Regions from separate parts of the Homo sapiens genome. Here region 2 is linked to region 1. Evidence: fine-mapped expression QTL. A gene starts in region 1. The other region holds a variant in brackets. All regions are shown on one strand. Distances are from middle to middle.

Region 1 (5,364 bases):
GGGACCAGCGTCACAGATGATCCAGCACGTGCTCAGCACTAACTGTGCTCAGACACTATGAGAGGCTGGGGATCAGCAAAGAATAATCAGTCACATGCCAAACTCAGGAGCTCAAGCAAGTGCTACAAGGGCCACATGACTGCCGACGGAGCATGAGACGCGGAACACGTGAGTGAGGCTTTGAAGGTTGAGTAGAAGTTGGCCTGGAAGATCTCCACCCACACAGAATGCTGTAAGGACAAGGTGTAGACCTCTTTCTCCTTCACTACCAAGCAGAATGCTGTAAGGACAAGTTGTAGACCTCCTTCTCCTTCACTACCACGCAGAATGCTGTAAGGACAAGTTGTAGACCTCTTTCTCCTTCGCTACCACGCAGAATGCTGTAAGGACAAGTTGTAGACTTCCTTCTCCTTCACTACCACGCAGGCTTCAGAGGGGTCCCTGGCTTCTCTTAAAGCTCTCGGCATGACACTACCAGCACACACTGTGGACACAGCACACGTCTGAGGCATAGAACATACACCTCTCACACCTTTCTCAGCCTTCTCACACCTCCCAGTAAAAGATCCCTGGGTACATATATTCACCGTCAAAACACCAAGCCCAATACGCAGACTGCTGGCCCTACCAAGCCAAGTCAGCAGCCTAAACTGAAGGCCTATTTCCAATGGTCAGCAGGCTGAGTTTCTGCCCAGGGACCCACGGTCCACAGGTGCATTTCTTCCTTTCTGATCTGATGTTCGGGGCAGCACCTCAATACACACTTTTACCTGGAGAATTTGGGGAGCTTCAATGGAACTGTGTGCGAAGTGCAAATAATGGGATAAACGTTGCAGCCAAAGGTAGCTTCAGGAACAATGACTGTTAAGCTCCAAAAAACCAGAGTGCCAGGAGATGCTCTGGGTTCCAACATTTGCCTCTGAGCCTAGAGCTTGACCTCCGCCTGGCCAAATGTTCCCAGATCAAGGGGCACCAACAGAGCAGACCCTGGAGCCACCGTATGGGATCGACACCTGGCTGTGCCACTTACCAGCAAGGCATTTAGCCCCCCTAGGCCTCAGTGTCCACTTACCAGCAAGGCACGGCCTCCCTAGGCCGCAGCCTCTTTAGCTATTAAACGGGATGCCAGTAGCTTCTATGAAGAATTGGATGAATCAAGATTTATAAAACCCCTAGAACAGTGTCTGGGATACGGTAAGCGCCACATAAGTGTTTACTAAGTAAATTAAAATGCCACACTTGTAAATCTGTATTTCTGCTATTCTCAATCTCTCCTGTTCAGAGTTGGCCAAGGTTCTCATTTGTTAAGACCATCAAATTTCTAAAACTAGCAACAGCAAAGGTAGTCTCAAAATAGGCGATAGATTTAGGACAACTTCCACAGGAGACTGGCACGTCATCAAGGAATAACAGCCTCAGTCAAGGTCAAGGTGAACCCCCTTAGGGAGACAAGCGGCTCCTGGGAACCTAGGAATACCACTGTTTATCCCTGCAATCCCACCAGGGTGAAGACGGAGTCAGAGTTTAGGAAAAAAAACCAATGTCATTCCAACAGATGTTGTGACAACTGAAACGGGTATGGCTAATGCTGATTTTCTTCCGAATCTGTCTTCTACAGAAAAAACAGCAGAAAATACAAAGTCTCAATTTCAAAACTTAGGGCTTTGGATAACGGTGTCCCAAACCCACATAAACGCTGTCTCTTGAAAACCACAAGGCCGAACTTACGGAGCTAGAAGAAAGGTTGTGGAGCAAATCCGTCAAGTTTGTTAGGCGAGGCGGCTGGCGAGGGTGTCACGCTGAAACCCGGCGTAGCCGCGAGGATACGGAGGGGGCGGTGCGCTCCCTACGGGGCCGGGCTGCGTAACGATGCCCCGCAAATGGGGATCGGGACGCGTCCTTCCGTGCCTCCATCGTTCGCGCCTCGCTCCAGGAGCAAGAGGGGCAGCCCCGGCCACAGTCCCCGCGGTCGCAAGTGCGCCCGGAGGCCGACCCGGGCCCCTCACCACTAACCAAAATGAGCGCAGAAAACGAGTACCGCCCGCCGTCGCCACCGAAGCTGGCTGCGGAGCGCGACAAGCCCTCGCCGCGGCTCCGGCCCCGAGGGGTCCCCGTGCGCCCGGCATAGCCCAGGACAGTTCCCAGCGCGCGCCGCGGACTCGGGGGACAGCGCGCTCGGGGGCCGGCAGCCTCCAGCGTCCGCCCGGCCCCCACCGCCCAGTGCCCCGGCCCGAGGGACCCGCGCGCCCCAACAAAGTTGGCGCAGGCTCTCCGGGGACCGCCCCCCACACGGCCGGGTGCCCGCCGGCGCGCAGGCGTGGGACGCGGGGAAGGGCACGGGGCCGCCGTCGGGGCTCGCGGCCGCCCGGCTGCGCCCCGGCTTTGTTCGCGCCCCGCGCCCGCCAGCTGCCCGCGCCCCGTCCCCGCGCGCGCCCGCCCGCAGACCCGCCGCCCAGCGCCGCCGCTCCGGCCCGGCCCACCTTCTGGATGGTTTGCTGCGTAACCTCCCCTTTGCCTCTTGGCCGGGCAGACGCGAAGGCCACGGACATGGTGGCGGCGCGGGGCTCAGCCCGTGGTCATCGAGGTGGATACTCCGGCTGCGCTGGGCGGCCCGAGGCGCTCATTATCCGCAGTCGCGGAGGGGGGGAAGGGGGCGGGAGCGCGGGGGGCGCCGCGTCGTGGGCTCGTCCGCCCCGTCGCCGTCGCCGCGCCTCCGGGCCCGCGGCGCCGCCGCTCCGCCCTGCAGAACGGTCTGCGGCCCAGTGCCGAACGGTGGCCCCCGGCGACCCCCTCGCACCCAGCGCCCGGCCCTCGCCGGAGCACCGCCTCCCACCCCCGGCCACCGGTGGTTCGGCCTGACCCCGCCCCGGCGCGCGCCATCACGTCCGCCCGACGCCGCCTGACGCTGCCCGTCGCCGCCTGACGCCGCCCGTCGCCGGCAGCGCAGGACACGGCGCCGAGGGTGGGGCGCGGGCGTAGTGGCGCCGGGAGTCGCGGGTGCGCGCGGGCCGTGAGTGTGCGCTTTTGAGAGTCGCGGCGGAAGGAGCCCGGCCGCCGCCCGCCGGCATGAGCTACGACCGCGCCATCACCGTCTTCTCGCCCGACGGCCACCTCTTCCAAGTGGAGTACGCGCAGGAGGCCGTCAAGAAGGGCTCGACCGCGGTGAGGCGGCGGGGCCTGCGCGGGGCCGGGGACGCGGGCGGAAGTGGGGCTGGGGAGCCCAGAGAGGGCCGGGGCCGGGCGCGGCGCTGTGGGCGCCCGCGGGCGTGCGCGGGGCAGCGGCGCGGGCGGTCAGGGCTGTAGCTGAGCGCGGGCCCCGCTGCCGGTCTCCACGAGTGCCTGCAGAGGCGGCGTTTGGCGTGAGCCGCGAGCGCTCGTTCTCCCCACTCAGCGCCTCGCTTGGGGCCCGGCCTCGCGTGGGGCCCCGGGCACGGGGGCCGTGACGACGCCATCTTGAGCACCCCTGGCCCCGGCCGGGCGCGTGGGTCGCGCCGCCGCCCCGGCGAGCAGAGGCCGGGCGAGGGCCGCTCTGGGCCGCGGAGCGCGGGGGGTAGGCCGTGCGCTCGCTGGGGGGCTGTTCACGCAGCCGGGTGGCTGGGGAGCGAACTACTCAAACCCCCCTTATGGGGACCCCCACCCGCTCCGGGGCAACACTTATTCTCTAGGCCCAGGTGGGCTTCGAGAACAAAGCGGCTCGCTGGCCTGGCCGGTGGCGGGCGCCTCCCAGGTCTCCGCACTCTGCCGGGAGGAGCCTTCCCGGGGCCGGGCTGCAGCCGCCCGGGTCAGGACTGGTTTGGACGCGGCCGTTTCGTTTTGACGAGGGCTCGTGTACATTGACCTTAGTGACATTGTTTGAAACTTAAATTCGTACCATCAAGACGTGTCAGTTTAATTGGTCAGTCTGTGAGATCGTTATTCTTTTATCATCTGGTATTCAGAGGTTTGAGCAGGCAGAGAAAGCAGCACACACGGTTCTGTAAATTTTGATTTGTTTTCATTTTCTGAATCTTTGTTTTGAAATGAAGGCCCAGTATTCATCAGGTGATCTAACTCAGCTTAAAGAGGACTAGGAGTCGGCTGACCCCTGTACCCACCCCAATACTGCCACCCCCGCCAGCTGGCCGCCGCTGGCTTTAACGAACCCATATAGCTTCTCTGGGCCTCGAGTCAGTCGAAGGTCAAGTGAGTCAGTACCTGAGAAAGCTCCCAGAAAACCCAAACACTTCAGATCAATACTTCTCAGCCAGGGATGGTTTTGGGCCCACACGGAGCCACTGGCAGTGTGTGGAGACTTTTCCAGTGGTAAGACCTTGCAGAGGTGCTCTTGGCATTTGGAGGGTAGAGGCCAGGGACGCTGCTCAATATCCCACCCGTGCTCAGGGCGGCAGGCACAGGGAGATCCCCCTGCCCAGGTGCTCACAGTGCTGAGCTGGAGAAGCCCTGCTCTAAACCAGGAGGCGCTGTTTATCCCAATGATGGTTCCCTTTGTTTCTGGCTTGACTCGGGTTGACTGTCAGTGATTGTTCATGCTTTTAATAACAGCCATATCCTTCTCCAGCATCAGCCATAAACAGTTTGGGATAACACTTGACACCTTGTCCACTGACGGCAAATCAGGCCCCTTCTCATGGCTGTCACATGAGTATGTCACAGTGCAGGAAACAGTGCATTGTGGCTCAATATAATTTCACAACTACAGAAACACTGCCTTCAGAACACCAGACTTGAGTGAAAGTCTCAGGCTTCCAGGCTTTGCATGGGACTGATTCATTGGGTTGAAAGGAAACACATGCCGATTATATAATGGTTACTTACTAGCTATGTTGTAACTAAAACTACATCTCAGTATTTGAAAGGCCCAGGTTGGGCACCTAGGTGAGCACGCCTGGGCTAGCTCTACCAGCAGTAGATGAATACCCCTGGGTTTGCAGGATGTGGTGCCAGCCACAGTGACAGACAAGTAGAGGAGAAAGGGGTGTGGGTGAACGCACCTTCCAGTGGGAGCTGCTACCCGGAGTACGTACCCCCCAGGACCCAGGTTCAGATCTGCTCCTACTGCTCGCTGCCTGGCAGTAGAACCATGTATCACTTTTTTGGGAGGATAGGGTGGGGTGAGGGGACAGGGTCTTGCTGTCTCTGTCTCCCAGCCGTCATGGCTCACTGCAGCCTCCACCTTCCAGGCTCTAGCGATCCTCCCACCAGCCCCCACAGTAGCTGGGACTACAGGCTTCAGCCACCACACCTGGCTAATTTTTGTACTTTTTGTAGAGACAGGGTTTTCCCATGTTGTCCGGCTGGTCTTGAACTCTTGAATTTAAGTCATCCACCCACCTCAGCCTCCCAAAGTGCTGGAATTAACAGGCA
Region 2 (5,364 bases), 44 kb after region 1:
TTCTTGTGCAAGTGACATCCCAGGTGCCATTTCTCGAGGTTGCCAGGCTTCCCAGCCTCTGGCTCCTGCTTGTGTCTTTGTAGGGGAGGTGGCTATGATGGTGACAGCACATTCGAAGCAGCAGTGGTTACAGTTTCCTTCTAAAAATACATTGAAGACAGAGTCAAATGTAAGGGGGTGACTTCTGGTTCAGCACAGCGTGCAGAGCACACGCTTCTCCCTGGATCTTGGACCACAGAGGGGACACTGCTGACCTTGCTCCTCTGGGGCATCCCCTCCCTAGACTCACGGGAGGACCACAGAGGACACGGCTGACCCTGCTTATCTGTGGGCATCTCCTCTCTGGCTCAGCTGGAAGACAGACAGCTGGGCAGTACCAACTGGGCAGACCAGGGAGAGGCAGAGCCCAGGCACACAGGGTGGGGAATCCCCAGGACCCCAGAGGGACTCCATCCAGAAGGCCAGGCAGCTCTGAAGGTGGAGCATGGGGTGGACTGGGAGCTCAGACCCACCCCTAGGAGACTGCTTTTCCTACAGATGCAGGCAGAAGACAGGGGTCCAGGTGCTGCTCTCAGGAGTCAGGGCTGGGAGGTTCTGGGCTGGGGCCAGGGGTAGGCACAGCCTGTGAGAGAGCAAGGCACTGAGGAGGGCCAGGAGATCAGGTCACAGCCACATCCTGAAAGGTGGCCTGAGCCCTTTACTCTGCTCCCTCCCCGAGTGCCAACAGCCTGATGTGTCTCCCGGGTGGGAGGTGGGGGCTCTGTGGAATTGCGCTGGCCTCTTAAGAACCCTGACCACATATTCAGACCTTGCTGCTTCCCCCTCTGAGGTCCACCCTGGAGCAGCCCCTCATCCCCCTACACCCACACTGCTCCACCTCAGCACTTTTGAGCCTCTCATGAAGACACGTGGACCCCAAGGGTCACTGGACTTTGAAGAAGAAAAAGACCCCACACGAAAGACAGATCCCACATCCCCATGCACCAAAGAAGGGAGCTTGGGGGAAAGAGTAGCAACCTGAGGAACAAAAAATATAAAAAAGAAAAAACCTTATTGCTGATACCCTTGGAGAGAGAAGAGAAAACAGCACATCCATGACCTAAGAACAGGATGTAATAAAAAAGGAACAGTGAGAAATTAAGAAAGAGCTCTTGGAAATGAAAAAAAAAAAGCACAAATGAAAACTTCCATAAAAGATAAATTTCTCAGGCGGGGCGTGGTGGCTCACATGTGTAATCTCAGCACTTTGGGAGACCAAGGCAGGTGGACCATCTGAGGTCAGGAGTCCGAGACCAGCCTGGCCAACATGGTGAAACGCTGTCTCTACTAAAAACACAAATATTAGCTGGGCATGGTGGTGGGCACCTGTAATCCCAGCTCTTCAGGAGGCTGAGTCAGGAGAATCACTTGAACCCAGGAGGTGGAGATTGTGCCATGAGCCGAGATTGTGCCACTGTACTCCAGCCTGGGTGACAGAGAGAGACTCCGTCTCAAAAAAAAAAAAGATAATTTTTTCATAAAGTAGAGAAAATGAAATGAAAAATAGGGAAGAAAACATTAATAAGAGCTCCAGAAAGAGAAAACAGAATGGAGAGCATCGCCAAGCAAGTGATTTATGAGGAAACATCCTAAAATGTGGACGTGAGGCTCCAGGTTGAATGAGTGAAGGAAGGCCGGCATGGCATCATGAAATTTCTGAACACAGGACATGAAGCCAACTCTTGGCAGAGCAGGTCCCAGTCCCACGAAAGAGCTGGTGATCTGACTGGCACTGCCTCTCAGGTGGCTGCAGGTGGACAATGTCGGCAGCGGGCAAAACCTTCACAGCCCCGTGGGAAGCTACTCTGCATCCTCGTCCCCCGGGGGACCCTAAGACTGAGGAGGCCTCCAGGCACCTTTCTCAGTGAACTCCTAGAGAATGTGCAGGGAGTGAGCGGGGAGGGCAGTCGGGGGACCCAGGTTCCGCTCAGGACAAACCCCAACAGAGGTGTGGGAGCTCGTTGCCCATGGACAGCAGTGTGAAGAGCAGCCGCCTGGGGAGTCAGGGCCAGGCTGCCCATGAGAGCCCCTGGGAGGATGGGGCTGATGGCTTTCTTGCTCCCCACGTGGAAAGGTGGCCCAGGACACGCTTTCTAGAGTCCCTGGGGAGGTTTGGGATGGGAACAGGCAGACACAGGATAAACTGACCGCAAGAACGACTTACACCCAAAGCCTGGAGGAGTGCGCTGCTCAGGCCTGCGTGGGCCCAGGGGACCACCCTCTGCCGGGCGGGTGAGCAGAGGAAGTGCAGGGAAGCAGCAGCAGGACAGCAGGGCCGTGGGGCTGGGAATCCAGAGCAGGCAGGGCCACGTTCTTCTCTTCGTGGCCTCATCTGTGGCCTCAGATCGTTTTGATGCAGATGCAAAGGATGCCTTAGGAGAGTCAGCTCTGTCGCCATCAGGATTTCCGTCTGTATCAGAGGCAAGGGTGTACCCATGGGAAGCAGAGGTGGGTCCAGGGGTGCACGGAGGAGGGTGGGCTGCTCAGACAGCAAGCAGGTGGTGAGGACAAACCTGAGAGAAGCCGTCTCAGCCAATAGCAGTGGCCACTCAGATCATCCAGTCATTGGTTCATTCATTGATCTGTTGATGGACTGATCCCCCCATCACTGATGTACTGATCCCACAGACACTCATTGAGTGTGGGTCAACATACAATCCCCACGCTGGTGAGCATCGGGGCTGGGGTGGGGCTGGGCACTCTATGGTAAGGGCTCCTTCCTTGGTCTGGGACTGAGGCCTCCTACCTGCTGCACCCTGGATGTACCTCGAGGCTTCCAGGCCAACTCTAGGTGTGTGGTTTAATGGGCCTGGGTGTGGCTGAGTATGGGGTTTTATCCAAGCTTGCCAGGCATTCTAATAAGTAGCCGGGGGTATGAGCTGCGGGTCTAGGGAGAGCGGGGGAAGCTTCAGTGAGAATCTAGGAGGAAGGAGTGGGCAGAGAGGTGGGCTGCAGAGTCCCCTGAAGGCTGGTGTGGGGAGGCAGCTGTGAGGGTCTGAAAGGGGGTGTGGAGGGACAGGCCGGGGAGAGCCAGGAGGAGCCCCCACGGAAGGGCTGGGTTGAGGGAGGGCATGGGAGAGCAGAGCTGGGAGGTTACAGGAGAGCCTGGAGAGGACAGAGGGGACGGCCT[C/T]GGCATGGCAGCTGCACCCACAGAGCAGGCAGTACCACATGGCACCTATCGAGTGCTGCCAGATGCCCAGTGACTGAAGCAGGGCTAGTGGGGCGATCTGTAGGCAGGATGTCCATGGGGTCCTGGGTCTTGAAGTGAAGAACATGCTTCTAGACTGTTCTTCACTGCCCTGTTCAGCTTTCCCCTGTCCAAGACGCCGGCTCCCAACAGGTCGGGGGGTGACCTGGAATGGCGTGGAAATCCTCACCAGCTGGAAGATGGTGGAGTTGGGTCCAACCCAGCAGCCACCCCCTCCACCATGAAGTGGCAGGAGGTGAGTTCTGGGGAAAGCTGGTTGGTTCTAAGCAGCACCCTGTCTGTGGCAGGACAAACCCACCTGACCCAGTTCTGTGCTATTTTTTTCTTTTTTCTTCTTTTTTTTTTTTTGAGATGGAGCCTCCACTGTCACCTGGGCTGGAGTGCAGTGGTACAATCTCGGCTCACTGCAACCTCCGCCTCCCAGGTTCAAGCGGTTCTCCTGCCTCAGCCTCCTGAGTCACTGGGATTACAGGCGCCCACCACCGTGCCCAGCTAATTTTTTCTATTTTTAGTAGAGATGGGGTTTCACCATGTTGACCAGGCTGGTCTTGAACTCCTGACCTCGTGATTCACCCGCCTCGGCCTCCCAAAGTGCTGGGATTATAGGCGTGAGCCACCGCGCCCGGCCTGTTCCATTTTTAAACTCCCAGCTTGCGGGACTCCTTCACCATCACCTTTTGATCTCCCTGGAAGACAAGGGTTTTTTTGGTTTCTTTTTTCTTTTTCTTTTTTTCAAGAAGGAAATGTTCTAAAACAAAAGATTTGTCTAGGCCTACATCTCCTTTTCCACAAGATTCACCTGGGAGGAGGTGCAGGCCGGGCGCCGCTGCAGCATCTTTTCCTGCCGTTCACTCTGGTGCGGGAAGGGACGCTGGGGAGCCTGTGACTGAGGGAACAGTGGACCCCAGGCAGGCCCCTCCCCAACGGCACGCTGCAGGTCCAGCTTTGCTGGAGCCCTACGCTCGTCCTGGCTGCAGGGTCTGTCCTGAGCAGCCCGTGAGGCCGTCGGGGCCCTACCTGGCTCCTCTCCTGCTTCCTCCTGGCCAGTGTCCAAAGAGCCCCAGCCCCAGGCCCAGGTCCCCACCCTGGGCTCCCACGGATCTGGGCTCCAGCACATTGAACCCTGGGCTTTTCGGATGACTGTGTTCACTCTGTGTTTCAGAAATCCATTCTGACACCAGAAAAGCCATGGGCTGCCCTTCCCATCTTCCATTTCCCTGCAGTGGGGCCTGTCTGCCTGTGTGTAAAACGCTTCCTGGAATGTGCCCTCCGCCCGACTGTCCGCGGTGCCCCCACCCTGCCTCTGGCAACACCCATCCCCCTGCATGGGGGCACAGAATTCTCTCTCCCCACACCCTCTCCCACCTGCACCTGCCCCTTCAGAGCCATGCCCCCCCAAAAGCATGCAGATGCCTGCCTCATGCCCACCCTCTTCCTGGGAACCCTCATGCCCATGTCCGCAATCGCCTCCCACCCCCTACTCCACTACGTTTGCCCTGAGTGTGGTGCCTGCGTGGCCTTCCCGGAGCAGCCTCTTGACAACTGTTCTGCTGGGGCTCAAATTACCCATCACTGGACAGTGGGTGCAGTGAGCAGGGGGAGTCCCCAGTGTGAGGACAGGCGGGAACTGAAGTCATGTCGTGGGACGTGGTCATGGACAGGATGGTCTCCCACCCCTGGTGGGAGGACCCAAGGGTCTGGTCCCGTGAGGCCCCCAGGGCATTTTGTCCTTGGCTGTGCCCGTGGTGGCATCAACACGACTTCCCCAGCCTAGGGGCCTTCCTTCCTCTTTGAGACCGCCGCCACCCCCCACCCTGCTCTCTGATCCGACCAGGCAGGCCCTCCATTCCCCCGGTCCTTGCCATGCCCCATGAGGGACGCAGAGGTGGGACACTGTCCCTACTGCATGGATGAGAAACCCAAGCCCCAGGGCCCGCCTCGGGCCACACAGCCGGCGGGGACAGAAGAGGCGCCCAGTGCCATTCTGGGTGACAGGTAACCGCAGGGCCCAGCCCTTCCTGGATCCACTTCTCGGCTCCTGGCCTGGGCAGTGCAGATCCCCCTGCAGAGTGCATCCCTCCCCACGCCTGACAGTGTCTGTGCCCATGACACCTCAG

Alleles and levels. Positions count from the first base shown, and alleles are read on the strand shown. Sizes are in standard deviations (SD) of each study's normalised expression.
For the expression in aorta of the gene that starts at base 2,601 in region 1, C is the high allele of the variant in region 2 and T is the other (small effect, 0.16 SD a copy in GTEx).

Evidence for each region. PIP is the estimated chance that this variant, and not a neighbour inherited with it, causes the effect. A credible set is the group of variants that fine-mapping cannot tell apart.
Region 2: its variant is the best candidate, but not a certain one, in a credible set for the expression of SS18L1 in aorta (GTEx, PIP 0.68).

The regions. Positions count from the first base shown.
Region 1 is chr20:62,141,006-62,146,369 of GRCh38, reverse strand. SS18L1 (SS18L1 subunit of BAF chromatin remodeling complex) reads right to left here and starts at 2,601. Exons shown (of 11, transcript NM_198935.3): 1 at 2,481-2,601. The coding sequence starts at 2,549. It overlaps PSMA7 (proteasome 20S subunit alpha 7), which reads left to right and starts at 2,976. Exons shown (of 7, transcript NM_002792.4): 1 at 2,976-3,162. The coding sequence starts at 3,067. RefSeq lists silencers at 2,125-2,174, 2,205-2,264, 2,385-3,094, 3,135-3,774.
Region 2 is chr20:62,097,026-62,102,389 of GRCh38, reverse strand. LOC105372706 (a long non-coding RNA gene) reads left to right here. Exons shown (of 3, transcript XR_936963.2): 3 at 1-1,247. Among named protein-coding and RNA genes, the nearest start is that of LSM14B, 23 kb to the left of the region's middle. The variant C/T (reference allele first, on the strand shown) is at 3,170.